2 separate regions of the Homo sapiens genome follow, and region 1 is linked to region 2. The links come from fine-mapping of genetic effects on gene expression. A gene starts in region 2. The other region holds a variant in brackets. All regions are shown on one strand. Distances are from middle to middle.

Region 1 (15,991 bases), 76 kb before region 2:
CATCCTCTGTTCATGAACTGGAAGACTTAATACTGTTAAAATGTCCACACTATACAAAGTGATCTATAGGTTCAATGCAATCCTTATCAATATTGAAAATAGGAAAACAACAGAAAAAGTGAACAAAACCAAAAGCTGGTCCTTTGGAAGAAAAAAACCCCAATACAATTGGTAAATCTCTAATTAGGCTAACCGAGATTAAAAAGACGACACAAATTGCCAGTATCCGAAATGAAAGAAGGTTCATCCCTGCATTAAAAGGACATTAAAGGACAATTAAAAGGACAATAAAAGAATACTTTGTACAACTCTATGCCCCCAAGTTTGATAACACAGATAAAACAGACCAACTTCTTAAAAATCACAAACCACCAGAACTCACAAAGGAGAAACAGGTAACCTGAAAAGTCCTATATCTATTATAGAAATTAAATCAATAATTAACCACTTTCTAAAAAAGAAAGCACCAGGCCCAGATAATTTCTCTGGTGAATTCTACCAAATATTTAAGAAACAATACCAAGTTTCCACAATCTCTTCCAAAAATAAAGGCAGAGGGAACATTCCCTAACTTATTACATGAGCCCAACATCACCAAAAGCAGATAAAGACACTATGAGAAAGGAAAACTACAGATCAATGCATCTCATGAACACAGATGCAAAAATCCTCTGCAAAATATTAGCAAATCAAATCAACAAAGTATAAAAAGAAACACACACCATGACAAAGCAGGATTCATTCCAGGTATGCAAAGACAGCTTAACATTTGAAAATCAATCTATGTAATTCAGGCTGAAGAAGAAAATTACATACATGATCATATCAACTGACATAGAAAAAAAAATCTGGAAAAATCCAATACCTATTCATGATAAAAGTTTTCAACAAAGTAGGAAAAGAACATAAAAAACTGAAAGTCAACATCACACTCAATGATAAGAAACTGAAAGCTTTCCTCTGAAGATTGGAAACAAGGTAAGGAAGTTCTCCCTCACCACTCTATTCAACACTGCATTGGAAGTCCCACAGAGTGCAGTGAGACAAGAAAAAGGCATGCAGATGGGAAAGGAAGAATACTGTCTTTATTTGCAGATGAAATGAAAGTGTATGTAAAAACACAGGCAAGGGCCCAGATTTGGCTCTTGAGCCATAGTTTGCCAACTCCTGCTAGAATGCCATGTTTCTATACTCAGTTACAATGTACTTATTACATTATTCATTACATAGCAATCCCTGCTCAACTGTCTGCCCTGAATGAAACAGATAATTTTAAAAAGTAAAGGGTGGTGGTGATAATTAGAAGAATGGCCTTGGTCTAAAAACAGATTTATGAAAGTAAAACTCTATTTTTAAATATTGCCTTAAAAATCCCTATATTTAATGACTCTGTAATACCTGAGTTAGTGATCAGTCTTCACATTAGGAGTTTATTATTCACACCATGCTCAAGACGTTTTATCTATAATCTTTCCCTCAATAAAACAGAATATATGTGGAAAAAAATGGTCTAAAAAACCCTTAAAGTTATTGACACAGGGGCAAGATCCTATCCCAGAGATTATCCAATTCTGTGGTTTTCAAATGATAATCCATAGAACTATACCATTTTTCAAAGTGTCTTGAGGACTATCGCAGGACAGGGAAGAAAGACTAGGGGGCTTTGGCATTTCCCTACTCAGAAAGATCAGATCTATTATTAATTGTCTCATAAAGTGTTTCATGGCCAGACTTTTAAAAATCAATGACTAATCCAACATTTTACTTTTCTATATAGGAAAACTCAGACAAAATTTATAGACACTTGCTGCAACCTTAAAGGCAGAGGTGGTAATAGAATCTTGGTTTCTTGACTACTAGGCATCGTTTCTGTACCATCCAGCTTGCTTAGACAGTTTAAAGTATGGTCTCCCAAAAATTAATGTTCTTACCTGTAAGCAGTTTTTCCTGAAGTTTAATTATAGTCATATATATATATATATATATATATATATATATATATATATATATGTACAAAAAAACTATATTTGAGAAGTCTTAACTTTCAAAAATTAAGTTTCTTTTAAAGATAACTTTATCAGTCACAACAGCTATAGAATTATATAGGAAGTCAGAGATTATTCTCACTTTCAACTAAAAAATGCAAACTATAAAAGGTACCTTTTCAAGTCCAGATTTTGAGATCTTTTCAGTTCCACTATTGGTTTCAAGACAGATTCCTTCATCAACACCATCATCATTGGAGAAATCGTTGCTCATCTGATCACTGTGACAACTACCTTCATTTTCTGCTCCACTGTCAGTGCAACTTTCAGTCTGAGGAGATTTCTTAATAAGACATAATTATCTTAGTTATAAACCATATACAGAGAAAATATGTTCAACAAAACTTTGTACCTATATACTGCTAATATTTTCACACAATTTAACATATTAGTAAAAATATTTTACTTTGAGTACATTTATTTTCTCTTAAAAATTGAGACCTTAAGTAAAATTAAACAAGCAACAGTGTATTTTAAAAGCATTTCTATCATGTCCTTAAAATTCTAATACAACAAATTAGTGATTCAGAATTCTATTAAACCTCATTTATGTTTACTGTTACAACATAATGGTTGAAATTATCATTTCTTTTAGCAAAATCCACAAAATCAGAGAAGCTGAGCTCCAAAATGAGCTTCTGGTGTTCTCAAATCAGGAAAGAATATAATTTCTTTTCTTGAACAAAAAGTCCAACTCGGTTTATCAGTGCGTTAGGTATTACAGATAATTAGAAAGAGAAACAAGACATTGTATTCATCCTTAAGAACTTGATAGTCTTTTTACAGGAAGTAGAAATATAATGGTTACAGCACATTATACTTTTCTACTTTATGGTTTTAAACCACATTCACACAAATTTAATTTGAAGAATTCTCTTTGTTAGAAACCCCCAAACAATCCTTTCCCCCTTTAACGTTTTATATACATCTCTAAAAATGTTTTTATTTAAATAATTTGAGAATTTTCTAAGATGCAGGCTTTTGAAATGTATAAGGCATTGCATAGAAGTTCTTGAGTGAAACCAAGCAATATACAATAAGCACAAACTTTTTGCCAGGAACTCTTGTTGTAGGTACTACATCTAATATACAGTCTTCATCTCTCAAGAAGGTTAGGTTCAAGGATAAATGGAGATGAAATCCAGCTATAGATCTAAGTCCAAAGAGATATAATTCCTGAAACTTCTTCAGCTGAGCCAAAACATTTCTTGTCCCAAGAACTAAACCTAGAATTCTCTAGGAAGTTTCTACTAAGCTTCATATATAAGTTTTCCTTCTTTGGAAAAAATTTTCCTTTATGAGAAATATATTAGGCATATTCAGAAGACCAATCTACTACTGATCTCTATTTGAGTAGAAATCCTACAAAGATTATGTCTCCTCTCAAAGTCTGGCACACTTTGGGTAGATTTCCTAGCTTAAGCGCAACTGTCTGAGACATTATTTTAAATTAAACTTTTCAAAATGTTATTGATCATAGTTACCATTCAATGAACAGCTACTTCATCTATGGCATCTGGAAATGAGGCTCAAAAGGTTTTATGAATTATCCAAGGTCAAGAGGCTAGCAAGTAGCAGGACAAGAATTTGAATCCACATCTAGCTATGCCTAAAACATGTGCTCTTCTACACCAAACTGCCTCATAGTACTCAATAGTACTAAATAAAACTTAGTGAATGTTTAAAATTATTTTTGAACTCCTGGGAAAAGGCATTTTTTATAACTATAGTAATCAGTTCCAGTAAAACAAAACAAAACAAAACAAAAAAAAAACGCTTCAGGGTAATTCTGAGAATAAATCACTTTGAAATAATTAGCCTAAGTGATTATAAGTATTCCACATAATAAAATCAGAAGAGTTTCCAAAATAATAGAGTGGAATATTGTAAGTCTTTCATTGAATAAGGATAGAAGAACCAGAGAATTTTGGCAGGCCAAAGTGTGGGAAGAAATTGATAAGCATTACATCATGTGTCACTTCAAATCCCATGCTTAAATTATTTAAATAAAGTTTCAAATTAAAAAAACTAAAAAAGGAAAACAGACAAATAGTAAATACAAAATAGTAGGTAAGTACAAGAAATTAAGCCCATGCTATTCAGTTGGTTCATTCATTCCATCATAGGCATTGTCTGCATTTATTATAGATCAGAAACATGAGTATGGCTTACCTTCAGGCTGGTTTCAATAACGACGAAATTATAAAATATAAGATTATCACTCAACTTCAAGAAATAATTCCAAAGCTGAGTTCCTTATTGTCTTTTCAAAGAGTATCATAAGTTACTCTGATCAAACAAGAATATTTAAAATATAATTTATGCAGTCAGGAAAAGCTTATACAAAGGTAAATCATTTTATTGAATTCCACATTAGAAAATAAGAAAGAAAAAGTTTCCATCAAGAAGACAGTCCAAATGACATCAGTGTTATTACCTCAAACAGCTCTTTCAAAACCATGACTGACTAATGTGGATTAATGAAAAATACTTTAAAATAACAAATATTTACCTCATCTTCAACATCAATAAAAGTACTCATATCTAGTTCCTCGGGAAATGTCATTCGATCATTCAGTTTAATCCTATGCATGGTTGTATAATCAAAATCGAATCTTTTCAGCTGTAAGGTCAGCAGATAAGGAAAATGCAAAAACCGAAGGCCCTAAAAAACAAACAACAAAAAGGGGGAGAGTCTATTGAATATGGAATATTATCTCAGATTCCTAAGTATTAATCTCTACATGGCATTTACCTTCCGTGCATCACACTTCTTCTTACAACGTTCACAAAAATACTGATTTGGGCCATCCAGAATCTCTGGCTGAATAAATGCATGCAATGCTTCTTCCTAGTTAGAAAAAAATTTGTTTTATAATTACTTAAAATATTATATTAATGACAAAATCCTGAATAAAAAAGACTGTAATTACTAAAAGTTATAAGTAGAATGGTTAGAAATTTAGGAACTCAAAATGTACCAAGGAAAATTATCAACAGTAAAATAATATTATCACTATAAAAATTAAGCAAAAAAAATTATTTCATTCTACACAAGATTTGCCTTTCTTAGTATTGCAGTATCACAGTCATTTCAACCTGATTTTCATTGACTTTACATTGCAGTGTTTGGCTAAATAATCTCTAAAAATATCCTCAGTCCTTAGATAAAAAGTAATTCCACACTTCTAAGAAAAGCAGTTGCATGCATCAATCTTCTTATAAAAGGAAGCATTTAAAACTGTACAGTAAATATCAATGTTCTCTAAAGAATTCACACTTTTCATACACTTAAAAATCATGTAAGCATCCTTAATCGCCATAGTTAGGATCAGTCAGTAATCTGCCACTGCACTAGTTATAAAGATTGAAAAACACTGTGCAACCTTCTGTGTGTGTGTGAGATACTGTTCCATTTGGAAATGTATAATGAGGATCCTGGATTGTTAATTTGGTAGAACCACGTGGTTCTCTTTTCTCCATACAGCATTACAACAGAAGTAAGAAACTTCATATAAATACTGTTAAAGAATCAGTGGCATAAAGTTAATTTTTATTTTAGTAATTGGTTTTTCACGATTAAAAAATTAGTTAATATAGCATATAAGATTGGACGCATAATCTCAAATTTCATCTGATGTTCTCTCTTTTCTTCACACATGGGCTAAGCAGAACTACTGATAATATTACACATAAACTAAAAGAAATGGAATCATTAAGACAGTATCTTCAAATATTTTTCTTTTGATATAGGACAAGCTGTTCCTCAAAAGATAAAGGAGCTTAATGGTCGTAGTTGCAAAATATCTGGCAAAGCTTAGAAAACTACTGTCCACATATTGTTTGATAGAGCTCACTTTGGAACAAGATAAAAATAAGAAAAGACATAGATATTCAAAGGTGTCTAAACCCATCTGATCCCCTATTTTGTTCTCAGAACACAAGGAAACAAGTGAAGAAACCAAACGGCTGGGTTTTTTTCCACATGACCATGCATTTTATTGGTGGTCAAATGACACATTTAGAAAAAAATTTTTTTTCCCTCTCAGGCATATTTTTGGGGGAAAAAGGAAAGTTCTATAAAAAACAACAGAAAAACAAGCTTTAAAGAAATTACATCTATAGCTTAACACAGACTGATACTAAATGTCAGGCTTTCCAAATAGTGGTAATTTAAACTGGTAAAAACTCAATATTCAAAAAAGGATGGGGGGAGAGGGAGAGTGAGATAATTATGTAACTCAAATTCTACTTTGGTGTGTGTGTATTGGTCTCCGGCTTATAGTTAATACCTAGAGATCTTTAAAAAAAATTAAAACTTGGAGAAAAGTTTAAAGAACAGAGAACTCTCAAATACTTTACTCATATTCATCAACTTTTAAACATTTTTGCCAATTTTGCTTTCCCTCGCCCAACCCAACATTATTATGTATCTTTGTTTTAGCCATTTGAGAGTAGGTTCACACCTCATCATGCTTTGCCTCTTAACTTCAATATGACTTTTTAAGAATAAAGATATTCTTACACAAACAGTAATCAAACTCTGGAAAATTTAATACTGATAAAGTACTTTCATCAGCCATATTCCAATTCTGTCAATTACCTTAACAATGTATTTCTCTCCATCTAGTACACAATCTGTCTCAAGGCCACAGATTTTGTTTGGTCTCTTGAGATTCCTTTAATCTCGAGGCATTCCAGAGTTTGCCTTTCTTTCATAACACTGATATTTTTTGAAGAACAGAGGCCACTTATTTTATAAAATGTTCTGCAATTTGGGTTTGTCTGATGTTCTTCATTATTAGATTTATACATTCCTTGCTAGGCTACTATGACATTAGCAAAGATGTGCCCTTCTAAGGGTAGCATAGTCACAGGCCATGATGTACCTAACTTTCTCTTTGGTGATATTAGCTTTAATTATCTGGTCAAGGTATTGTCCAGTCTCTCTACCATATAGTTATTATTTTTACTCTCGCGGCTAATAAGCAATCTGTAAGGAGATACTTGGAGACCATGCAAAAATCCTGAGCCTTACCAAATCTTCCACCCTTGATTTTAACATCCACTTACAGATTCCTGCCTAAATCAAATTTTAATGTTTGCTTTCTGAACCAACTTGAAAATCTTTTTAATAGGCAATTTAAGCCCACTCATATTTGATATGACTGGTATGCTTGGTCCTATCTCAGTCACTACTGTGTAATTACTGTGTGTGTTAGGTAATATTTATTGTGTTCCTTTGTTATTTTTTACATTTTCTTTTGGTATTTAGCAAGGTTTGTAATTTTATTCTACAGTTACTTTTGCATTTATAGTTTTGTTAGTGTCCTTGGACCTCTTTTTTTCCCACCCACCCCCACCCTGTTTACTCTTTCTTAAGCTTTCAGTGTCTGCCAGTTTTAAATGGTCTCCTTTATTCCCCACCCACACAACAGTCTGTGATCTTATTCTGCTCTCCCTTTCTCTCCCCCTTCTAAAAAGTGGTATTATTTGTACTTTGTCTAACATGTAACATTACATACTACTCTGCTGTTCCCGTGTTCCCACCCTTGTATTTAGGCCTTAATTTAATATAGTAAGTGCTCACAGTTCTTTTGCCGAAGCTGCCCGTGATCTCTTGGTTGGGTTAAGCTCATCCTCTAATGAACTCCTCAATGGCTCATGGATATAATACCCAATGAGTTCCTGAATATTCAAACTTGTCTTTTTATAGCTGTCATAATTAAGAAACACTTGCCTGGCTATCAAATCCTTGGCTGGTACTTTCTTGAATTTCTGGAAATTGCTACTCTGTTGGCAGGATTTGCATGTTGTTCTTCTGAAATATGATGCCAACCCAATTCATCTTTTTTTTCAGATGAGGTCTTGCTCTGTCATCCAGGCTGGAATGCAGTGGTGTGCTGGCTCACTGCAGCTTTGAAATCCCTGGCTCAA[G/T]CAATTCTCTTACCTCAGCCTCCTGAATAGTTAGGACCACAGGCACATTCCACCACAACTGATAACTGATTTTTTATTTTTTTGTAGAGACATGGTCTCAATATGTTGCCCAAACTGGTCTCAAACTCCTGGGTTCAAGGGATCCTCCTGCCTCAGCCTCTCAAAATGCTGGAATTACAGGCATGAGCCACTGTGACTGGCCTCAATTCATCTTTAATAGTTTACTAAAATACATCTCAGAGTTTATCATTCCAGGTCCTTCAAAAGGTAGACTTGACATTTCCCTTATTCCCAGAAACTTTCTCTGAATTACAGTTTATCTATTAGTTCTGGTCCACTGTTTTATTTTTCTTCTTCACAGACTCCAATTATGTTGGACACCCTTTGCTGGTCTTCTCTTTCAATTTTTTTTTTCTGAGATCCTTTTTACTTTTACAAAAATCTCATTTCCATTCAATGTCCTTCATTAGATCTTCTTTCTATTTTCTCTTGAGCATTTTTTAATTTATTCTTCACTTCTAAGATATTTTTGTCTTTTTCTTCTGTTTCTTTCCTGAATTTGATGAATTCCCACTTCATTTCTTACAGCATTGTTTTTGTTTTTTAAATCTATTTCTTTGCTTAAGTTTTTGGATACCAGGTTTTGTTCTGCTCATTTGAGAATATTTAATTCAGTCAGAGTACCATGTTGATAATTCCAGAGTGACAACAGTTTCATATTCTAGATCTTACTGCTCCCCATATATTATGCAAAATGTAATTCTGCACATCTTTTTATTTACTTATTTGAGACAGGATCTCACCACGTTGCCCAGGCTGGTCTCAAACTCCTAAGCTCAGGCAATCCTCTGCCTTGACCTCCCGAAGTGCTAGGATTACAGGCGTGAGCCACCATGCCCAGCCTGCACATCCTTTTACACTATAATTTTCAGAATTCAGGATAGAATATAAAGAATTCTTACATCCTTAGTTCTCCAATCAAAAACAATACGGGTTATTCCAATTTTAGAGCTAATGCAAATAATCCAGGCACAGTGCAATCAAAAGGTATATGCAAGGAATGGTATTGCCTATAAATCCTTTTTTTAACCATTTATGTGTACATATGAATTATTCATCAATTAAAATCTACTTAATTTTGAATAGAGAAATGAGTGTTAAAACACCATACTTCAATTTTTACATGAACAAAAAAAGAAAGTAGATCCACCACTGAGAATTATTTCCTGATTTTGATGTACTAAGCAATTTTGGTACTACTGATATACAGGAACATGATGTTTTCCTTAAAAATATATTCAACTGTCTTTCCCGAATATATACTTTAACATTACTACTTTTTAACTAGGAAAAGGCCTATATACTTTTACCTAAGCTGTCTACTTTTTTTTTCATTGAAACTTTTGAGATAATTGTAAATTCATATGCAATCGTAAGAAATAACATACAGAGACCTCTTGTACACTTCCCCCAGTTTACTGGAAACATTTTGCAAAACTATGGCATATCATAACCATGATATTGGCATTCATACACCTATCTAATTCAGATTTTCCCAGCTTTAGTGCACTCATTTGCCTGTGTATATGTGTCTATTAAGTTCCATACAATTCTATCACCTGTAGAGGTTCATATATTCAACACCCGTCAAAAGACTGAACAGTTCCTATGCAAGGATAACTTGTGCCACCCTCTTATAGCCACAACCACCTGCTTCTCCTCTCCCTGCTCCCACCAAATCCGTAAGACCTGGTAATGGTTAATCTGTCCCACAGTTCTAAAAGGTTGTCATATCAAAAGTATTACATAAATGGAATCATAAAGTATGTAATAACCTTTTGAGATTGGCTTTTTTCACTCGGAATAATTCCCTGGATATTCTTTCAAGTTTTTGTGTTTATTAATAGTTTGTTCCTTTTTATTGCTAAGTACTATTTCATGGTTTGTATGAACCACAGTTTGTTAAACCATTCACTTACTGAAGCAGATATGGGCTGATTCCAGTTTTGAATATTAAAAACAAAGATGGAATAAATATTTGTGCACAGGTTTTCATGTAAACATAAATTTCAATTTTTCTGGGATAAATGACCAATAGTTCAATTGCTAGAGTTTATGGTAACTGCACGTGTCATTTTATAAGAAACTACCCATAACATTTCACATTCCCACCAGCAGTGTATGTGTGATACAGTTTCTCCACATAGTCACCAGATTTCCATGCTGTCATTATTTGTAGCCATCTGGCAGGTAAAGAATAATATATTCATTATGGTTTGAATTTGCATTTCCCTAATAGCCAGCAATGTTGAGTATCTTTTCTGTATTTGACATTTGTATATCCTCTTTAATGAAATGTTATGTCTTTTGCCAATTGTCTAGATGAATTTTTCTAAACTGATGTCTTGAGAGTACTTTATATATTCTAGATATGAGTCCTTTGTCAGATAGACAGCTTGCAAATATGTCTGGAGATTCTCTTTATCATATGGGCTTTCAGAGAGTAAATATTTTTAATTTTAATGTTTGCTAATTGTCCCTTTTGTAGACTGTACTTTTGGTAGCAAATCTAAAAACTCTTTGCTTAGCCCAGATCTGGAAGACTTTCTCCTATGTTTTTTCTAAAAGTTACATAGTCTTACATTTTACATTTAAGTTTATGACCCATTTTGAGTTAATTTTTGTATAAAGTCATTTAAGTCAAGGTTCATTTTTGTGATATGGATGTCCAGTTGTTCCATCACCATTTGTTGGAAACACCATTTTTCCTCCATTGACTTGCTTTTGTGTCTCAGTCAATAATTAGGCATATTTGTGTGGATCTATTTCTGGGTTTTCTATTCTACTCCACGGATCTATTTGCCTACCCCTCTACCAATATCACATAGTCTTGATTACTATAGCCATATAATAAGTCTTTTTGGCTAAGTAGTATTCCATTCCAAATCATGTAGACTGGTAACTTCCACTTTATTTTTATTTTTGAAAACTCTTAGCTATTCTAGTTTCTTAGGCTTCCATATACATTTTGGAATAAGCTTGTATATGTCCTCAAAAAATCTTGCTGGACTTTGACAGGAACTGCATTAAGACTATGTAATTATCTTTACTATATTGAATCTTCCAATTAATAAGTACAGTATGTTTCTCCATTTATTCTTTTCAAAGTTTTTTTGACACATAATACTGTAAATATTTATGAAGTACATGTGATACTTGATACATGCATAGAATCAAGTCAAGCTATTTAGGATATCCATCACCTTGAACATTTACCATTTCTTTGTATTGGGAACATTTAAAATCTTCTATTCTAGCTATTTTGAAATACACAATATATTGTTAACTATAGTCACTCTAATCTGCTCTCAAACACTAGAACTTACTGATTCTATCTAACTGTATGTTTGTACCTATTAACCAACCTGTCTTTATCCCCGCCTCTCTCAAACACACTGTTCCCAGCCTCTGGTAACTACCATTCTACTCTCTACCTTCATGAGATCAGCTTTATTTTTAGTTCCCACATGTAAATGAGAACATGTAATATCTGTCTTTCTGGTCCTAGCTTATTTAACATAATCTTTTCAAAGTTTTGTAGTTTTGAACACATAGGTCCAGTACATTTTTTGTTGGATTTCCATCTTTTTTCTTTTTGCAAAATTATAAATGGTATTGTATTTTAAACTTCACTTTCTACATGTTCATTGTTAGTATCTTGAAATACAATTTATTTTTTATGTTATTTTTATCCTGCTACCTTGCTAAACTCACGTATTAGTTCAGGTGTTGTTTTTTTTTTTTTTTTTTTGTACAAGGGATTTTCTACATAGATAATCATATCACCTAAAAATACAGACAATTTTATTTCTTCCTTTAGTAGTGCTTTTCATTTCCTCTTCTTACCTTACTGTGTTGGCTAGGACTTCTAGGACTATGCTGAAAAGGAGTGGTAGGAGCAGACATCCTTGCCTAGACAAGCGTGCCATTCCCTAGGAAGAAAGCAGTCTCTCACAATGAAGTATGATGTTAGCTATAGATATTTTAGATACGTTTTTTAATCAAGTTGAGGAAATTTCCCTCTATTCCTAGTAATCTGAGTTATTATAAGTGAATTTTGAATTTTATTAAGCACCTTTTCTAAATCGATATGATCATATGAATTTTCTTTTTTGGCTCGTTAATATGGAAGATTATACTCATTGATTTTTAAAATACTGACCAGTCTTGAATCCCGGAAATCAATCCTAGTCACAATATATAATTCTTTTTATAAATTGCTTAATTCCATTTGCTAATATTTTGGAAAGAATTTTACCAACTACACATATAAGGGATACTGTTTTTTTTAAGAACTGTCTTGGTTTAATATCAGGTAAGAATAGTGTCACAGGACTATGGGTTTCCTCCTCTTCCTTTCTTTTTTTTTGAAAAGAAATTGTACAGACCTGGTGTTCACTGTTCTTCGAATGTTTGATACAAGTATCCAGTGAAACAATCAAGATTTGGAGATTTCCTTTCAAGAGGTTTTAAATTATAAATGTAATTACCTTAACAGTTACAGGACTATTCAAATTATCTAATTCCTATTGAGTTCTTTTCAAAGAATTGGTTCGTTTTATCTAAGTTGTCAAATTTATATGTGCAGAGTTGTTTGTTGTGATCCCTTTGATATCTGCAAGATCTATAGTTATATCCTTTTCATTCCTGATACTGGAAATTTTTGCCTTCCCTTTTTCTCTGTCAGTCTTGCTATTTGTCAATTTTATTGTCTTTTCAAAGAGCCAGCCCTTTGTTTTGTTGACTTCCTCTACTGTTTTCTCATGTTCAATGTTACTGATTTCTCGGCTTTTCTTTATTATGTCCTTCCTTCCGCTTGCTTTGGGTTTCTTTTGCTCTTCTTTTTTCAGGTTAGGTGGAAGCTTAGATTTCTGATTTGGCCCTTTTCCTGTCTTTTAGTATAAGCATTTAATACTGTGAGTTTCCCTCTCGGTATTGCTTTAGTTGTGCCTCAAAAAAATTCGTTATGTTTTACTTTTCATTAAGTTCAAAATATTTTTAAAATTTCCCTTGAGACTTCCTCTTTGACCCATGGATCATTTAGAAGTGTTATTTCCCAAGTGTTTTGTGATATTCCTGTCTGCTAATCTGATTCCACTGTTGTTGAAAAAAATCACACATTCCATGATTTTAAATTTTTTGAGGTCTTATGGTCCAGAGCATATGGTCTATCCTCGTATATATTTAATGGATACTTGAAAAGGATGTGTATTCTGCTGCTGTTGGGTGAAGCACTTTAGCAATGTTCATTAGATCTGTTGGTTGATGGTGTTGCTGAGTTCTACCTCTTTGCTATTTCTGTCTAGTTGTTCTACCTATCAGTAAGAGAGGGAGGCGTGCTGAAGTCTGCAACTGTAATTGTAGATTTGTCTTTTTCCTTTTAGTTATGACAGTTTTTCCTTCATGTATTTTGGCAGCTGTGTTATTTTCTGCATACACATTTAGGATTGTTGTCTTCTCGGTTGTTTGACACTTTTATTACAATGTAACAGCCCTCTCTGTCTGTGGTAATTTTCTTTGCTCTAAAGTCTTCTTTATCTGACACTAATATGGCCATTCCTGATTTATTTTGGCTTATTGTGTTTGGGGTTTGCTCAGCTACTCAGATCTGTAGGTTTATGCCTTTTGCTAAATTTGGAACATTTTCATCCATTATTTCTTTGTGCCTGCCTTCTTTTTCCTTATTAATCTCCTTTCAGGACTTTAATGACACAAGTGTTACACCTTTGCTCTCCTTCCAGTATTCCAATGACACAGTGCTAAACCTTTTGTTATAGTCCCATAAGTCCTTGAGGATATATATTTTTTTCAGTCTATCTTCTCTCTGCTGTTTAGACTGGGTAATATCTATCATTCTATCTTCAAGTTCACAGATTCGACCTACTGTCTCTTTCATTCAGCTGTTCAGCCTATCCACTGGGTTTTTAATTTTGCTTATTGCAGTTTTCAGTTCCAAATTTTCATTTCTTTGTATCTCTAACTGATTCCCTAAAATTTTCATTGTTTTCAGTGTGCTTAGGACTGCTCACTGAAGTGTTTCTATGATGGCTGCTTTAAAATATTTATCAAATAATTCTAACATCTTTGTCATTTCAGTGTTTATGTCTACTGGTTTTCTTTTTTAACTCAAACTGAGATTTGTGATTTTTTAATTGAAACCTGGACATTTGGGGTGTTATGAGATTCTGGACCATATTTAAACCTTCTAGTTTAAATGCCTCCTTTGACACTGTACCATCTGGGGAAAGGGCTCTGCCATATTAGTGCCAGATGGCATTAGAAGTCCAGGTTTCCCACTTGGCCTATGTGGACATCTGAATGGAGGAAGCTCCTTGTTAGTGCTGCGCAGGGAAAGGAATTCTGGGTATTCAGTAGGCCTCTGCTGATATAACCTTGGCTGTAAAGGGCAGGAGTATCTCAGTACTACACCCCAACACTGACACAAGCAGGAGGGGCTCGCCTCTTTACCCCTGGGAGGTGGTGAAGGAACAGAGAATCTAGGCTCCCCACTCAGCACTGGCAGGCACAAGTTGATGTAAGGCCTTTTCTTTCTGTGGTGTTTGGTTAGAGCACAGCAGTTATGGTCTAAAAGTTTTCTGGCTTGCTAGGCTGTCTTTTTCCTCGTCCTTCAGTTAAAGAGAACAGGGTTTTTCAGTCTGTACCCATTGCTGTTTCCAGGCTGCCAGCTTCTTCAGTTCCAAGCCTGGGATATATTAGGCAAAAAGAAAACCCATGGAACTCACCACCGTGTTATTCCTTGGGTGCTGAGGTCCCTAGTGTGTATGCCTTCTCTCCACCTTTCAGTCTTCTTATGTTTATTTTACATATAATGCTCAAGGTTTTCAGTTGTTTTAGTGGGAGGAATAGGGCAATGTACATCTACTCCATCTTCCTGAAAGCAGAAGTCCCCACTTTTTAAACTTGTTCCCACTATGTCCAACCATACACATTCCTGGAAAAATGAGGGTAGAGTCTGTGGAAGAGATTTTTCTTTAACTGATGCTTACATATTTGGACAAATTTGGACCACTGCTTCACCCAAATGAGTTCTGTGGCTGAGTCACCCATGTAAGAATGTCCAAACCACCTGTTATGTCAGGGTAAGACTTATAATATAAACTTGTGTAAATAGTTGAAATGCTTTTGATTTCACACTTACTAATTTCACAATTTTCCATTCAAAACTTTAAAACAATCATTAAACTATGTTTACTTAGGAAACAAGTCTTTTATATAATCTTATTTCTCCAAAGGCACTGTATGAAATTATGCAGCTAAACCCTGATCAAACTTTGAACACGTTTTTGTCATAATAAACAGGTATTTAAATGTACGTAATGAACAATAGAATAAAAGTATCCTAAAAGAAAATGGCCTAGAACAGTGTCTGCCATAGAGTAGGCCCTAAATAAATGTTGTATGACAAAATACACCAATAAAAAGACAGTGTCTAAAATTTTACTGTTAAATAAAAAAGCACTTCCTTAGATAATGTCAAACATGAGGCTACATTGTTTTTCTTTAATTTATAAATTATGCTTTCATAATTAACAAACAAAAAGTTAATATTTCTAATTTCTATGTATTACTAGAATATACTTAGAACTATCTCCTTATTTAATACATTCTCACATGGGGTTGGCAATAAGCATAGTCAAAGTTACTTTGATCTAGTCAGTGAACATAGAAGGTTCTAACTATCTAATAAGTCATTAAGAGCAAAATTATTTAAAGATTACTACAAGTAATTCTTCAGCTGATATTAATTTTTCAGGATTAATAAAAAATATGTAAAACAACAGGAAATTATAACACATATTTTAGTATTCTCACTCCCTCTCAACATCCCAAGGACACAAATATAAACAAAGTAGTGACATTCTTAAATCACCTTAATCTAATGTAGAGCTTCCCATATTATGTTCCTCAGAATCCTAATGTCTCTTGAG
Region 2 (15,991 bases):
GTTTCAAATATGGAAGTAAGTATCAAAAGAATGAGTTGAAAGCAGTTGCCCCTAGGCAGCCTGAAATGAGGGGAAATTTGCAGAGACCTACTGTTTTTGTAAATATAGTCATGTGCCATATAAAGACATTTTGGTCAACAATCACAAAGATGACAGTGGTCCCATAAGATTACAAATACCATATTTTTACTGTACCTTCTGTATGTTTGAACACACAAAGACTTATGATGTATTACAACTGCCTACAGTATTCAGTACAGTAACATGCTGTAGCCTAGGAGCAACAGGCAATGCCATATAGCCTAGGTGTGTAGCAGGCTAAACCATCTAGGTTTGTGCAAGCACACTGTATCATGTTCAAATGATGTCTAATGATACATTTCTCAGAATAGGTCCTCATCATTAAGTGACAAGTGACTATAGTTCTGCAGAGCTATTTAACTCTTATAAATATATGCATGTATTAAACATAACTTTGATAAAAATTAAATTTAAAAAATCAACTGAATCCATATTATCAAGGACTTTCCTACTGGTTAAAGCTACCTTGATTTAGAATCAAATAGCTATGTAACTTTGAGCAAGTTACTTAGCATCTTTAAGCCTAGTTTCTTCATGTGTAAAATGGATAATGAAGAATAATAGCTAATACTGTCATACTGTCAAATGAGATAATGTAAGTGAACTGGTTAGCATAGTGTCTAGCACATACTGTTTACAAATAGTACCTATCATTCAAATTGCAATCAGAGGGTAATAATTATAAACTTTAAAACAGGTAAATCTTAATCTCATCTGTTTTAGAAAGTAACCCTGGCAGTTGTGGGGAGGATGGTTAAGAAAGGAAAGGCCTTGGAAGCAGACTGACCAATTAGAAAGGCTACACATTGGAGAAAATAACAATAATTAGACAAAGGCAGAGCCATGGAGAGAAAGATAAGGATACAGAGACATTTTCTAAGTGGTGAACTATATGTGAGAAAAAGGAAAAGAGAGGAGTCAAAAACTGTTCTAACTTAAGCATATAAATAGATGGCGATAACACTAACTGAAACAGGAGAACACCAAGAATTGGGTTGTGAGAAGGGAAGGAGAAATAAGTTCGATATTACCTATATTTAATTTGTGGGTCCTAGAGTACAACCAAGTACAGATATCCAGAACAGTGGAAATCTGAATCTAGAAGGGGTCAGGGCTGGAGATATAAATGTGTAAATCACAATCAAAGGTTGAAGCTATACAAGTGGATCCGATTACTCAAGACAAATATACAGAGTAAGAGGAGAGGGGAAATAGGAAAACTGTGAGCACAAAAAAAAAAAACACTATGTAAATACCCCCAAAACTACAATCAGATCATCTCAATTTCTGTTTTTGAAAATAATGTACATGCTCATTTTTAAATATGAAAGTCTAAATATATATCCCAATAATCCAGAAATTCAGAAATAGCAACTCTTAATATTTTAGTGTATTCCTTCTAATCTTTCAACGCATTTAACCCTAAATTGTTCATTTTTTCCTGGACAAAATTAGAATCATATACAATTCTGCATTCAGCTTTTGCTTTCATTCATTAAATGAGCATTTCCAATGATATCTAAAATACTGACTTTTATTAAACACTCCAATTTGTTTAAAACGCTGGCGGGTATAACTTGACAAACTTGTCTCTTACTGGTAAGAGAGAGTCAACATCTGAAATTTAAGAAAAAGCCTCATTTTAAAAGAATCACTAAAATCAAGAATGACAATTGCAGCACATTTCCTCAGGTAATTTAATTAGGAGAAATAAAATTAAAAGAATATGCATTTGACATGTTCCATAATAGATACTGATGAATGGATTTTATAAGAAGTCAGACAATAGAAATAAAAATAAGTTGTTTTTGCTATCAATGTGTCTTATGTACTCTGAGGTTGCTGTGAAGCTCAAATGAGTTAATACAAAGCACAACCAACAGTATCTGGTATATAAATAAATGCTCAATAAATACTGGTTATTACTATCATCATCATCATTAGATGCCAAAACCAGTTCCAGACAGAAGTAGTGATTGCATGAAAGACAGGAGAAAAAAACCCAGAGATAAAGAATTTACATTTCTACTCTTTTTCCTTCATTTTTTCCATTTTCTCTGGATTTAGAGTCCATGAGCACTACTTTAAGTACTGCAGTTTAAGTATTATTTTTAAAGCATCAGTAAATATGCACCTTATCCTTGATCATTCTATAAGACACTTGAGAGAAGAACAAATTTTTCTATTCTAAGTTTTTCCTATTTGGCAGAATACAGTAATATGCACAGTGAGTACTCAATGAATATTAATGACACACATCCTTATAAGAAAACAGAATAACAAAATAGCAACCAAACAATAATTAAAATTGGGATGCTATTAAAAGAGACCTCAAAGCAGAAATCAATATACTACAATTCAAAGACATACGGCAGAATGAAACGGGTGAAAAGCTCTGTTCTTCACCACAATGAAGAGATACCACTCTCTTTGCTCTTTCTGGGTACAACAATTTAGGAGGAATACTAAAAACCCCAGATTATGTCCAAAAGAGAGGAACTAAGAAACAGTTAAAGAACTGAGGAAGCTCAGACTCAGAACAGAAAAGGTCAGTTCTCAGGCTACCCTCTCCCATCTTCAATGATGAGAAAAACTATCCTATGGGAAATGCTTTAACATTTCTGTAAGGCAACTATCAAAAGATGGCAGCTATAGAGATCTAGACTTCTCTCAACTCAAAAACTTAAAAATAACAGATCTCTTCTAAGACAAAGATTTTATCAAAGATTAGTCATAGAAGTATGTATTAAAGCAAAAGTTGGCAAATAGCTTGCCAATGATGCTGTGGAAAACCTCCAAGGACAGGATAATTGGTTAGAATGCTAAATTTACTTACAACTCTGTCACCACATCAACGAATATTTACTGAATATCTGCTCCAGGAAAGACACTGTCTTAAACCTATAGTACAAAACCTACAAAAACAAAAAGCAAAGACAGAGAAACATACCAAGTCTTTGCTGTCAAGGAATTCACAACAAATAATATATAAAATGTAGATTACAGTTTCAGATCATAATAGATGTCGCCAAGCACCATCTAGTAATTGCCAAATGAATTCTATTCCTATATAAAGGTCTTCTAAGAGGGAGAAATCTCTAAGGTTAAAATGGTCAGAAAAGGCTATTTAGCATAAATGAGATATGAGGTACTTATGGAAAAATGTGTATGAAGGTTTTGAACAGGAAGGAGGGGGCAGCACAAACAGAAGTGAAATGCAAGTTAGAGAGAAACCTGTTTGACTACATTAAAAACCTGTTTCATGGGAGAAGAGATAAGCTGGAAGGACAGGTTGTGGCCAGAATCAATGGTACTGGGCCTTGAATACCAAGCTAAGTAATTTCAAATTTATCCTGCATAGAGTCTCTGTAGCAACTACTCATCTCTGCTGTTGTAGCCATACAAAATACTAAATAAATGGCATAGCTGTTTCAAGACTAAAATTTGAATTACACATTATTTTCATGTGTCACAGACTATTATAATTCTTTTGACTTTTTTTCTTCAACAATTCGAAAATGTAAAACTCATTCTTAACTCACAGGCCATACAAAACCAGGCTGTGAACTGATCTGGACCACAGGCCGTGGTTTGCCAATGCCTGTACTACACTAAGCTGTCTTCTTCAAGAGTCCTCTAAAGGTACATTTGTCCTTGAGTTTCAGGGACCAAAATATATTATTCACTGAACAACTATACACTCCAACACACGCACGCACACATGCCCACATCTAACCAAGATCTAAATCTAGCAGGGGTCAGAGGTTCCCTATACAAAGGCCCTCAAAAAAAAAAAATCTTTAGATTATTGATAATAAGCCATTAAAATAAATGCATGAAATTTTTTAATTTGCCATTTATTTTCACATATATATGTACTTAGAGAGTTACAAACTATTCTTACAGAGCCTCTAAATTACATGTAGGGCTCTGTAAAATAGGGTATAATCAAGGGAATAGTAGCAAAGGAAGTGAGTTCTAGCACTAGGTCTGCCATTTACTCATTATTTGACCCTGAACAAGTCACTTTCAATCTTCTGGGCCTAACTCCCTTAACTGTAAAGTGGAGGGGTAACTTAGATGATGATTATGCTTTCTCTTAGCTCTAGCACTGTATGATTCTACTACTGTTTAAAAGGACCTGTCCCGGAGCTTCAAGGATCACACAAAAGTGCCAATTAAGAATACAAAAAAGAAGAGAAAGGCCTTGACTAAATGAGTGGGCAGATAGGACAAACAGGTGGGAAAATGACCAGAAAAGTGGAGTATCACTAAAATCAAGAAATTGTTTTTTTAAAAAAACTATCAGATCCTGCAGAGAATTCGAACAGCAGAAGAGGCAAGAAAAAAAAAGTCAAAGAATTTGGTCATTTAAGAGATAACTGGTGATTTTCAGAAAAAGTTTCCAGTAATCCAGAAGCAAATATGGAACTGGAGGCAATCACTTTAATAAAGAATGAGTGTGGCCATCAAAGAAGAAAAAGCTAGTTGGCTAGCTATAAAAGGTAAGAACCACAGATCATGCTTCCAGGAATCATGAAAGGAACCAGGGAAAAAGAAGACTGAAGATGAGACTAAGGAATAGACAATAAAGGCATATGGTCCATAAAAAGAAGAAAGGGAAAAAACATAAGTTGTGATGAATTTAAAGCCTCAGGGAAGGGAATTAATCTTAAAAGGACAGGCATTTAATCTTTAAACTTCCGTTGCTGTTATCACTTTTTACACAACAGATGTTTCTGCAAAGCTCGGTATCTATTATCATATCATGTTTTCTATAAATCAAGTTATTAGGGAAATAAATCTAATGTTGGGTTTTCTTAAAGCAGAGTTCCACCTATATGATATTTTTCTAATGGTCAAAAAATTAAGAAAGAATTTTGTTTTTTATAAAAATGAAAACCAGCAATATGAAGCTCTAAAATGAAATACACATTTATACCTTTCTTACAGCACCTATCACTTCCTTCCTTGCATAAGAATTACTTACGTGGTAAAGTACCTAGTCCCTAATTGGAGTTCAACAAACACTAGTGTTCCCTTTCTTAGTAGCTCAGAAAGTTCCCAAGGCAAGAATTCTGATTAACTCATCTGTTTATCTGCTTTGCACAGAGTTGGTGACGCTTGATGAACAAATACTGACACATAACTCTCTGCCTTTTACAAAAATCGTCCTTGCAAAACAACTATCACTGCCCTTCTGACAAAGCTGGGAAAATACTTGTATCATACAGGTACATAACTCCAATAATATCACCCTTGCATACTGTCAGAGCTTGCTTAAGTAACAAAGAATTGCTACAAAACAAGTAAAACAGGCACAAAAAAATTTAAGAATCTGTAATGATCACTCATTAATTTCAAGATCGCACACAGTTAATTTCAATCCAACACTTGTCTCTATTTAAGGTATATGAGAAATAAAAATCCAAAGCATTAGCCTGATGATCAGCCAGTTAAAAATACACATTTGAATACGCCGAAGATATTTATAAAGCCAACAGAGATACTATTAATACGTTGAAATTCGCTGGCCAGTGCTGGATTCTACCCTAAATCTTCTACTACTATTCAAGAGAAGCCAAGTAGTCAAGGCTTCTCGTATCACTTGCTTTTAAGAATTTAAGAAGTCACTCAAATTGGCATACACAACCCAACCTCAAAAAAAAAAAAAAAAAAAAAGAGTTCAGCTCTCCATGTGGTAATGTTCTCCTATCTCCTTCCTTTACATTAATGTCCCATGTACTACTTTTCCACGATCTTCGGTAGGCCCCATTTAGGCAGGCCAATAGTACTACCAAGTAACAGGAGTTGAAAAAAGTCGTAACAGTTAAGTCTGCCCTCCCACAGATCTCACTTGGGTGTAGATTTCACAAGCGCTGAAAGCTATACGCTGCCACTGTCAAACCCAGAAGCAGCACCGTCACCCTGCCGTGCCCATAGGCAACTGTTCCAGAATGTTTTCTTTGAAATGATCTCTCCCGGCTCCACACGTTAAACAAGAACTTAAAAGGCCACCTTCTCCCCTAGAGCAGAACCTGATTCTTTCCCGTCCGCTCCTTTATTCGTCCAGCCCCATAAAACCCGAGGCGGGAGGTCCGCTCCCCGGCCCCTAGAGCCAGCGGGTCTCCCAACTGCTCGCCGCACCCACCGTCCACCCCCGACTGCCTCACGCCTCCTCATTCCCCCACAGCCGAGCCTGCACCCCGGCCGGGCCCGCAGCCGAACCCCGGCCCGGGCCTGTGTTGCCTCGAGCGGCCGCAGGCCTAAGGCCTAACCTCCTCTGGGGCCCCTCACCTCTTTCGGGACCAGTTGGTTCTCCTCGCCGGGCACCATCGCTGACTCCGGCCGCTCCTCTCCGCCCTGCCGGGGGAGGGTGGAGGGTGGCGGCGGCTCGCTAGCTCAAGAGAGAATGGCAGCGGCAGTCATCCTCTCCGCCGCCTGCGCTCCAGCAATAGCGGAGGCCTCAGCCTGGGCCTCAGACACCAGCGCGCAGACACCGACCCAGGGCTCCGCCGCCGCCGCCGCCGCTACCACAGCCGCCTTCGTCGTCGGCCCCTCCCCCAGCCCGCTGCAATCAATGGAAAAATGGCGGCGGCCGCTCTCGCGAGAATTCGGCCCGTCGGGCTCCAAGCCCGGCGCCTGGCGTCGGAGGTGGCCGGCACTTGTCGCTAGCTTCTAGTCACCTCGGCTCTTCCTCAGCCCCGGGAGGTACAGAATTGGCGAGACAGCCATGCAAACGCTTTTCGTTAGAGGAGAGCTGGACGTTCCATCTCGGGACTCCCTCTGCCGGCCGGGGAAGGACCAGGCCCACTGTCCTCCCTGCCTTCTCGGGCTCTTCGGACTCTCTGCCCTGCAGGGAAAGACTCGAGCCGAAAGCCCCATCTCTGACCCTAGCAACTCATACCCTTCTGGCTTCCCTTTAGCAAAGCGCCTGGACGTCATCCCCTCTTCAGATACCCCAGGCCTCGTCCTGGTAGAGACACCACCGCGGGCCACCTCCCGGCCCCCGCCCTTAGACACGGCTCTGGCCCTTCCAGTCAGAATGGACAGCGTTTTATTTGCTCCCGTTCACTCTCCTGACGTTCTTTTCCCCTCTCCCCACCCTCCCTCTCAAGGGCCCCCAGCTGGAGGGACCTCAGGGGCCACCCCCTGCTTGGGGAGGCAGCCACCCCTTCCCTTATGAAGCGGTGTCCTCACCGCCCGCCCCCCGCAACTACATTGGAGAGGCGCTCCCCTGCCCTCTTCCAGGGAACTTCCTTCTCCATCAGGGCCAAGTCTGAGACTGAGCTAGCCTTCCAAGAGTAGAGCTGCAGTATGCTTCAACCTGTGATCTCCGTTAACAAGGTTTTTAGAGAATTTTAATCTTCTCTAGTAGTAAGCATGGTGCTTTGTGTTATACTAAACAAAGTTTGCAGAAGTCATTTCTCCAAATCCTGCTTCCATTATGGAGACTCGGCGGGGCTCCTTCATGAAGACTTTTATGGATACAGTGATCTTACAGCATGCTGAGATAATATAATCTTGTCATGTTCCTAACACCCACAGCATTAACTGCCTGCACTTGTGTTCTCCAAACTTTTTTTTATTGTAATCCCGTTACCAAAAAAAAATCCATATACTTATATAAGTTTTATACGTGTCCTGCTGTGTGCAGAATTATAAAACATTTGTAAAATGTAAAAAGGCTAAGACAAAGATGACATAAACATTTAAAATAACTTAGTTATTTTCCATATTAATGGTATAAAAATCTTTGTTATTCTCACTAAAAATATTTAAGGAAATCAATATGATTGACTAGGTTTCGTTAGTTTTAAAAATCTTTAATACTTCGTGAAATAGTTATTAAAATATCTGATTGAACGTCAGGTTATTTTTGTACTTGGTTTTAATGGCTGTCATAAGCTGAAAAAAAGGTAACTCACAAAGATGTAGATCCTAAAGGAGGAAGTACATCTTTGGCCACTCTTCCTAATGCATGTTTAGAACGATTTAAAAAAAAAAACTGATATGAAAAAAGTTTCATTTTTATCCATTCCATCCAACAACCATGCAAAGGTTTTTATTGAAATTCAGCTAGTAGTGTTCCATCTTTCCTGATGTCAACCAGAAGATGTTGCATTTTTATATTTTTACAAATGGGTTCAAAGCTCTTTGGAATAAATTGCTTAGAAGATTTTTAAGAAGTTGAAAATTTCTATCTTCAAGTTTTAAGTATTCATGTATGAGTTTTGGGAGTTATAGATCTTGTCTTTAAGGTTTTGATATTTTGATTATCATGGATTGATTAAGATAAATTTTGACTTTTTAAAATATTGTATTAAGATTAGTTGTCTTGATTATTGAATTTTTGGCACCCCCCCCTTAAATTTTGTGCCCAAGGTGAACGGTTTTCACCTTGAAAACCATTTGCTTCACCATAGTCCCAGACTTGGGTGGCTCACATATATCATTTTTGCATCAAAATCACATGATGGAAATATTTCCAAACTTTTATTTTCAAAATGTCATCCCATGACTTAGTAAGGTGTCTTCTGTAGTGCTGGCCAGTGCTGTAGTGCTCACCCTAGAAGTAAAAATGTCATCTCTGTCATCTTTTTTGCTTATGCTTGCAATATTATTTCAAACTCATGTTGTCTTTCCAGAAATCCTTTTTAGTCACTTTCATTTTAGTAAAGGTTGATATAATGAAATAAGAATGTAATTGATAAATCTACTTAACCCAGCCCACATAAACTGGAATAAGTGACAACATACTAAAAGAAAATGAAGGAATCTCTGAATTCTCTACATTGCAGAACTCACACTTCTCACTCAGGAGTAGTGAGATGCTGGTGTTTATATATTCAATATAAGTAAGATTTAATTTTGCGTTTTTAGATTAAAATAAATATAAAAAGAAAGTCTAACATTTTCTTCCTACAATCCCCCTTTTCTGATTGCACACTCTTTTCTTTATAGGCCACTGGCTTGACTATTGCAGGAGAGCCTGATAAGATGGTAAGTATACAATGAATATTTGTGGAATAAGTATGTGGATTCATGAATTGATTAATGAATAAATGGACAAATACAAATATATGGCTACTCTTCCTAATATATTATTACTGAGATTACATGGATATGTGTTTATTTACTTTATATGTAAATGTTACGTCCCTTGTCCTCACCTCTCCTATAGGCTGTAAACTCATATATCTACCTTTTTAATGGCTCAATACCTCCCAAATTTAAACTTGACCTGAACAGAACATTTGATTTCCAAGCCTCCCCTACCTCCTGCAACATATCCTCTATCAGTTCTTCTCCACCTTGATAAATTACACTGTCATCAATTCAGTTTATCAAACCAAAAACCTGACACTCTTCATCTTACATTCAATCCCTTCATATGGGCTGTTGCTTCCACCTCTGAAACACATCTCAAATCCATCCACTTTTCCTTCTATCTACTACTGCACATCCCACTCCAATTACTTTATTCTTTTGCCTGTACTACTGCAGTTACCTCCTAACTGGGTTCCTGTTTCTAATCTTATCCCTCAACAATCCATATTCCATAGAGCAACCAGAGTGATCTTTCAAAAATATGTCATATCCCTTCCAAATCTTCCAAAGACATCTCATCCCTCTTAGAATAAAATTCATATTCTTTGCTATAGCCTGTGAGATCCAATGTAATCAAACCCATCTGTCTTGCTCCAGTCATCTGCCACTCTTCCTCTTACGCCCAATGACCCAGCCACTTTGCCTTTATTGAGCTTTTTAAACACATAAAGTTTGTCTCTGCCCCAAAGCCTTTGTAGTAGTTATTTCCTTTCCCTGAAATATTCTTCCCGTAGATCTTTTCTCTTATCTAGTTCAATCTTGTCATTTGGGCTTCTCAAATGTTAAATCTTCGAAAAGGCCTTTTATGATAATCCAATCTAAACTGGTTGTCCATAATGCATCCTCAATGTCTAGAACAATGCCTAGCACATAGTAGGTCATTAATAAATTGGTGTTGAATTAAAAACAAAAACCAAATGCCAAGACTGGTGTAGGTCAGAGGCTGATGATTTTTCTTATAATTTCTTTGGGAATATTTTCCTTTTCCTTTTCAAATGAAAATGTTCATAGTATAACCCCAGTCAAAGTATGAAAAAAAATCACACAAACCCAGTTTGGAGGACATTCTACAGGATGCCTGGTCAGTATTCCTCAAGACTGTTAAGGTCATGAAAAACAATGAAAAACTGAGACACTGTCATAGACCAGAGGAAACTGAGGAAATATGACAAGTAAATGCAATGTGGCACTCTGAATTGGATCCTGAAACAGGAAGAAGCCGTTAACAAAAAAAAATGGTAAAACTCAAATAAAATGTGTATTTGGTTAATATTTATGTACTAATATTCATTTCTTAGTTTTTAAAATGTTTTTAAAAAATTTAATACACTTTATTATTATTATTATTATTATTATTGAGATGGAGTTTTGCTCTTGTTGCCCAGGCTGGAGTGCAGTGGTGTGATCTTGGCTCACTGCAACCTCTGCCTCCTGGGTTGAAGCGATTCTCCTGCCTCAGCCTCCTGAGTAGCTGGGATTACGGGTGCATACCACCACGCCCAGCAGATTTTTGTTTTTAGTAAAGACAGGGTTTCACCATGTTGGCCAGGCTGGTCTCGAACTCCTGACCTCAGGTGATCCACCCGCTCGACCTCCCAAAGTGCTGGGATTACAGGCATAAGCCACCGTGCCCAGCCTTTGTTTTTATTATTCACAGCAAAGACTATATTTAAATAGTAAATGAGAAGAAATTGTAATTAAACTTTATTTTTTAGAGCAATTTTAGGTTTACAGCAAAATTGAGCTGAAAGCACAGAGAGTTCTCATACACCCACTGTCCCTACACACACACCCTCTCCACTATTGACAGCTGCCACCACAGTGGTACATTTGTTACAACTGATGAACCTACATTGATATATCATTATCATCCAAAGTCCATAGTTTACATTAGGGTTCGTTCTTGGTGTTGTACATTCCATGTGTTTTGATAAATATATAATGATATATATCCACCATTGCAGTATAATACAGAATAGTTTCACCGCCCTCAAAATCTGCTGTGTTCTGCCTATTAATCCCTCTGTCTCTCCTAACTCCTGGCATTCACTGATCTTTTTACTGTCTTCATAGGTTTACCTTTTCCAGAGTGTTGGAATCATGGTATGTGGGCTTTTCAAATTGGCTATTTCTTCTAGTAATATGCATTTAAGTTTCCTCCATGTTTTTTCATGGCTTGATAGTTCATTTCCTTTTAGCACTGAATAATATTCGATCATCTGGATGTACCACAGTTCATTTATCCATTCACCTACTGAAAGACATCTTAGTTGCTTCCAAGTTTTGGCAATTACCAATAAAGTAAATACAACCATCTATATGCACATTTTTGTGTATGTGTAAATTTTCAATTCATTTTGGTAAGTACCAAAGAGCATGACTGATAGATTGCACAATAAGGGTATTTTTAGTTTTGTAAAAAAAACAAAAACAAAAAAACTGCATGTTTTACATAGTTTTTTTACATAGTTTGTTTACATTGTTTTTTACATAGTTTTGTAAAAAAAAAAACAAAACTGCATAGTTTTACAAAACTAAACATTCCAAAGTGGTTGTGCCATTTTTCATTCCCACCATCCATGAATGAGAGTTCCCGTTACTCCATCACATCTTTGCCAGTATTTGACATCATCAGAGTTTTGATTTTGACCATTCTAATACATGTATAGTGGTATCTCTCCTTGTTTTAATTTGCAATTCCCTAATGACATATGGTGTTGAACATCTTTTCATATACTTATCTTCTTTGGTAAGGTGTCTGTTCGGGTCTTTTGCCCATTTTTTTAATTGGGTTGTTCATTTTCTTATTATTGACTTTTAATAGTTCTTGGTATATTTTGGATAACAGTTCTTTATCAGATGTGTCATTTGTAAACATTTTCTCCCTATCGGTGCCTCGTCTTCTCATTCTCTTGACATTGTCTGTCACACAGCAGAAATTTTTAATTTTAACAAAGCCCAGCTTATCAATTACTTATTTCATGGATCATGTCTGTGGTGGTGTATCTGAAAAGTTATCACCAAACGCAAAGTCATCTAGGTTTTCTCCTTTGTTATCATCTAGGAGTGTTATAGTTTTAAAGTTTACATTTAGGTCTATGATCCATTTTGAGTTCATTTTTGTGAACAGTATAAGGTCCGTGGCTAGATTTGTTTCTTTGCATGTGAACATAAAATTGTTCCAGCACCATTTGTTGAAAAGACTTTTTTCTCCATTATATTGCCTTTGCTCCTTTGTCAAAGATTAGTTGCCTATATTTACGTGGGTCTATTTCTGGGCTCTCTATTATGTTCCATTAATCTGTTTGTCTATTCTTTCACCAATGCCACACTGTCTTGACTACTGTAGCTTTAAAGTAAGTCTGGAAGTCAGCCCTTTGACTTTGTTCTTCTTCAATATTGAGTTGGCTATTCTGGGTCTTTTGCCTCCCTATATAAACTTCAGAATCAGTTTGTCAATATCCTCAAAATAACTTGCCAGAATTGTGATTGAGATTGCACTGAATCTGTAGATCAAGTTGAGAAAAACTGACATCTTGACAATTTTGAGTCTTCCTATCCATGAACATGGAATATCTCTTCCTTTATTTAGTTCTTTGATAGCTTTCATTAGAGTTTTGTCACTTTCCATATATATATATATATATATATATATATATATATATATATATATATCATCCATATTTGGTTAGATTTATATGTAAGTATGATTTTGGGGGGTTCTAATGTAAATGGTAATGTGTTTTATATTTCAAATTCCACTTGTTCATTGCTGATAGTTTCTTAGTTTTTATAAGTGTAATGTGGTAATGCAAGATATAAGCAGTGGGGGAAAGTGGAGGAGGTATATACAGACTCTTTGTCCTATCTTTGTAACTTCCTTGAAAGCATAAAATTATTCCAAAATAAAAGGTATATTTTTAAATGTTCATGGCAATACTTAAGATTTTATTTTCTTTCTTTTATATTTCAAGACTCTTCACTGCACAAGTCTAAGCATGTAGTCAAAGTCACATTATACAATTTAAGAACCAGTGAAAATAGAAGGTTAAATGTGTATTATAAAAATGAAAGGAAAATTTCACCATGACTATGTTTTAATAAGGTTAAGGAGAAAATCTTTAGTCAGTGTAATGTGGCTTTGGAGCCAGATTTACCTGTTTTGAAATCCAAACTCTGCCACTTCCTCCATATAAGACCTGTCTGAACCTCCATTTTCTCAACTATAAAATGGGGGCAATAAAGTAGACCCTTGGCATTTATCAGTTTAACATTTGCCATGTTGACTGGAAAAGTCCATGACATGTAGCGTAATTGTGATAGAAAGGAAATTTGAACTTTATACGTTAGCCAGAGTACAGAAGACCAAAGAGCTAAGTGGTTGAAAGAGTAAGCTGAAAATACATTATTTGAATTTGAATCCTACCTCTATTATTATTAACTGTGTGACATGCCTTGGGTAGATCTCTTAAATCCACCAAGCTTCAGTTTTCTTATCTGTAAAATGGGGATGATAACAGCCTCTCTTCACAAGGTTGTTATAGTAACTAGTAAAGAAAGTAATAATAATCACAAAACTACAGCAGTTAAGATTGGTTGAGGCCGGGTGCGGTGGCTCACGCCTGTAATCCTAGCACTTTAGGGGGCCAAGGCAGGTGGATCACCTGAGGTCAGGAGTTCAAGACCAGCCTGGCCAACATTGTGAAACCCCATCTCTACTAAAAAAAAAAAAAAATTAGCCGGACATGGTTACGGGCGCCTATGATACCAGCTACTCAGGAGGCTGAAATAGGAAAATCATTTGAACCTGGGGCGGGGCTGAGTGAGCTGCAGTGTGCTGAGACTGCACCATTGCACTCCAGCCTGGGCAAAAGAGTGAAACTCTCAAAAAAAAAAGAGATTGGTTGAATAGACAGGCATAGTGGCTAACGCCTGTAATCCCAGCACTTTGGGAAGCTGCCGCAAGAGGATCACTTGAGCCCAGGAGTTCAAGACAAGCCTAGGCCACATCGGGAGACCCCATCTCTACAAAAAAATAAAAAATTAGCCGGGTGTGGTGCACCCCTGTAGTCTCAGCTACACAGGAAGCTGAAGTGGGAGGATCCCTTGAGCCTGGGAGGTCGAGGCTGAAGTGAGCCGAGATCACACAACTGGACTCCAGCCTGGGTGACGAGAGAGACCCTGTCTCAAAAAAAAAAAAAAAAATTGGTTGAATATATAGATTGAGCCCTGCTCTAGATCCTTTGCTTTTTTTTTTTTTTTTGTCTGCGACAGTCTCCTTTTGGCCAGGCTGTAGTGCAGTGGCACAATCTCGGCTCACTGCAACCTCCGCCTCCCAGGTTCAAGCGATTCTCCTGCCTCAGCCTCCTGAGTAGCTGGGATTACAGGCACGCGCCACCATGTCCGGCTAATTTTTGTATTTTTAGTAGAGACAGGGTTTTACCATGTTGATCAGGCTGGTCTCGAGCTCCTGATCTCGTGATCCGCCTGCCTTGGTCTCCCAAAGTGCTGGGATTACAGGTGTGAACCACTGCGCCCAGCCCCTTTGCACATATTTTTTATTCAGTTCTCTCAACAACTTTATGCATAAGTACTTCTAATATCCCCATCTTACAAGTGAGGAAATGCATATAAACTGTTTAAAGCACTCAACATACACTACCTGACAAATACTAAGCAATCAATATATGCTGGCTATAATTATCCTAGCAATAGACTGAGTTTCATGAGGGAATGCACAACCCTCACAGTACCTGGCATATAGTAGGTGCTTTTAAATTCATGTTGAATAAATAAACTAGTCACTTAGCTAGTGAGTAAGTCTTGTTAATCATACGGCAACTACACTTTGACGTAGTCTCATTTCTGCCTACTCTTCTCCACTTATGTAGTTCTTCCATGAATTTTCTTTGTGGAAAATGGCTCTGAAAAGAAACTCAATTATTAGTAATGAGATTGAAGAAATTATTAAAGTGATGGATCTTAGCCACAAAATAGGCCTTCTGTCTAAGTTAAAGAGTGGGATGTAAAATTAGTCAATGGCTTATATTTATGATGGAAAAGACACCATCAATAAGGAAACAAGAAAAAGTAATTTGGGAAACTATTTAAATGAGTGCATCCACTAAGGAAAAAAAGCTCATCAATTAAGTTAAAAACCACTGAATATTGAAAAGATGACTAACTTTTGGTGTGAAGATGAGAATAGAAAAAATGATGCTCAGGAAAATGTAATCTGGGAGAAACCTAGGAACATTTGTATAAATATTTTCATGAGGTAAGCGAGTGAGGACATTTGTGGGGCTCTTAACCCACTGTGACCTCAAAAAAAAGATTGGTTCTGTGACCTAAAGTAGCATTTTTCTATTGACATTTTATAAAGATAAAAATCATTGCCACAGAAGTGCTTGCTTGCCTCTTTCTAAGCTGAAGAAATTCATAAAGAAAAGGTTAATAGGTCAGTGCATTCAACAGTATTAAAAAGAGGCTCACATCAACAGAAAATACCTTGGTAAACATATTGAAGGAGGAGAGGCAAATATCAGCGCCTAAGGCAACCAAAGATAAATTGACCACAATTCACTCAACTTTCTTTGCGGTCTGCAAGTGCCTAAATTTTAAGGTGCAAGAATAGGAAGGAATCTAGCAAAATAAAGTTGGAGTCACAGTGTTAAACTTTCTGAAATGATTTCATAATGTCTTTGAAGTAGAGTAATATTTATAAATTTGTCATTTGAAGAGATCTCAATATTCCTTGAGAATGTGAAGACTGAGTTGTAATAATTACTTGATAGCATTG

Evidence for each region.
Region 1: its variant is fine-mapped to the expression of USP47 in whole blood (INTERVAL, PIP 0.94).

Annotation. Positions count from the first base shown.
Region 1 is chr11:11,909,061-11,925,051 of GRCh38, reverse strand. USP47 (ubiquitin specific peptidase 47) reads right to left here. Exons shown (of 28, transcript NM_001282659.2): 9 at 4,801-4,896; 10 at 4,558-4,710; 11 at 2,161-2,328. Among named protein-coding and RNA genes, the nearest start is that of USP47, 75 kb to the right of the region's middle. The variant G/T (reference allele first, on the strand shown) is at 7,983.
Region 2 is chr11:11,832,612-11,848,602 of GRCh38, reverse strand. It overlaps USP47 (ubiquitin specific peptidase 47), which reads right to left and starts at 6,631. Exons shown (of 28, transcript NM_001282659.2): 1 at 6,379-6,631. The coding sequence starts at 6,417. LOC107984311 (a long non-coding RNA gene) reads left to right here and starts at 6,762. Exons shown (of 4, transcript XR_001748134.3): 1 at 6,762-7,428; 2 at 9,046-9,084. RefSeq lists enhancers at 6,388-6,527, 5,826-6,689, 6,738-6,907, 6,690-7,555.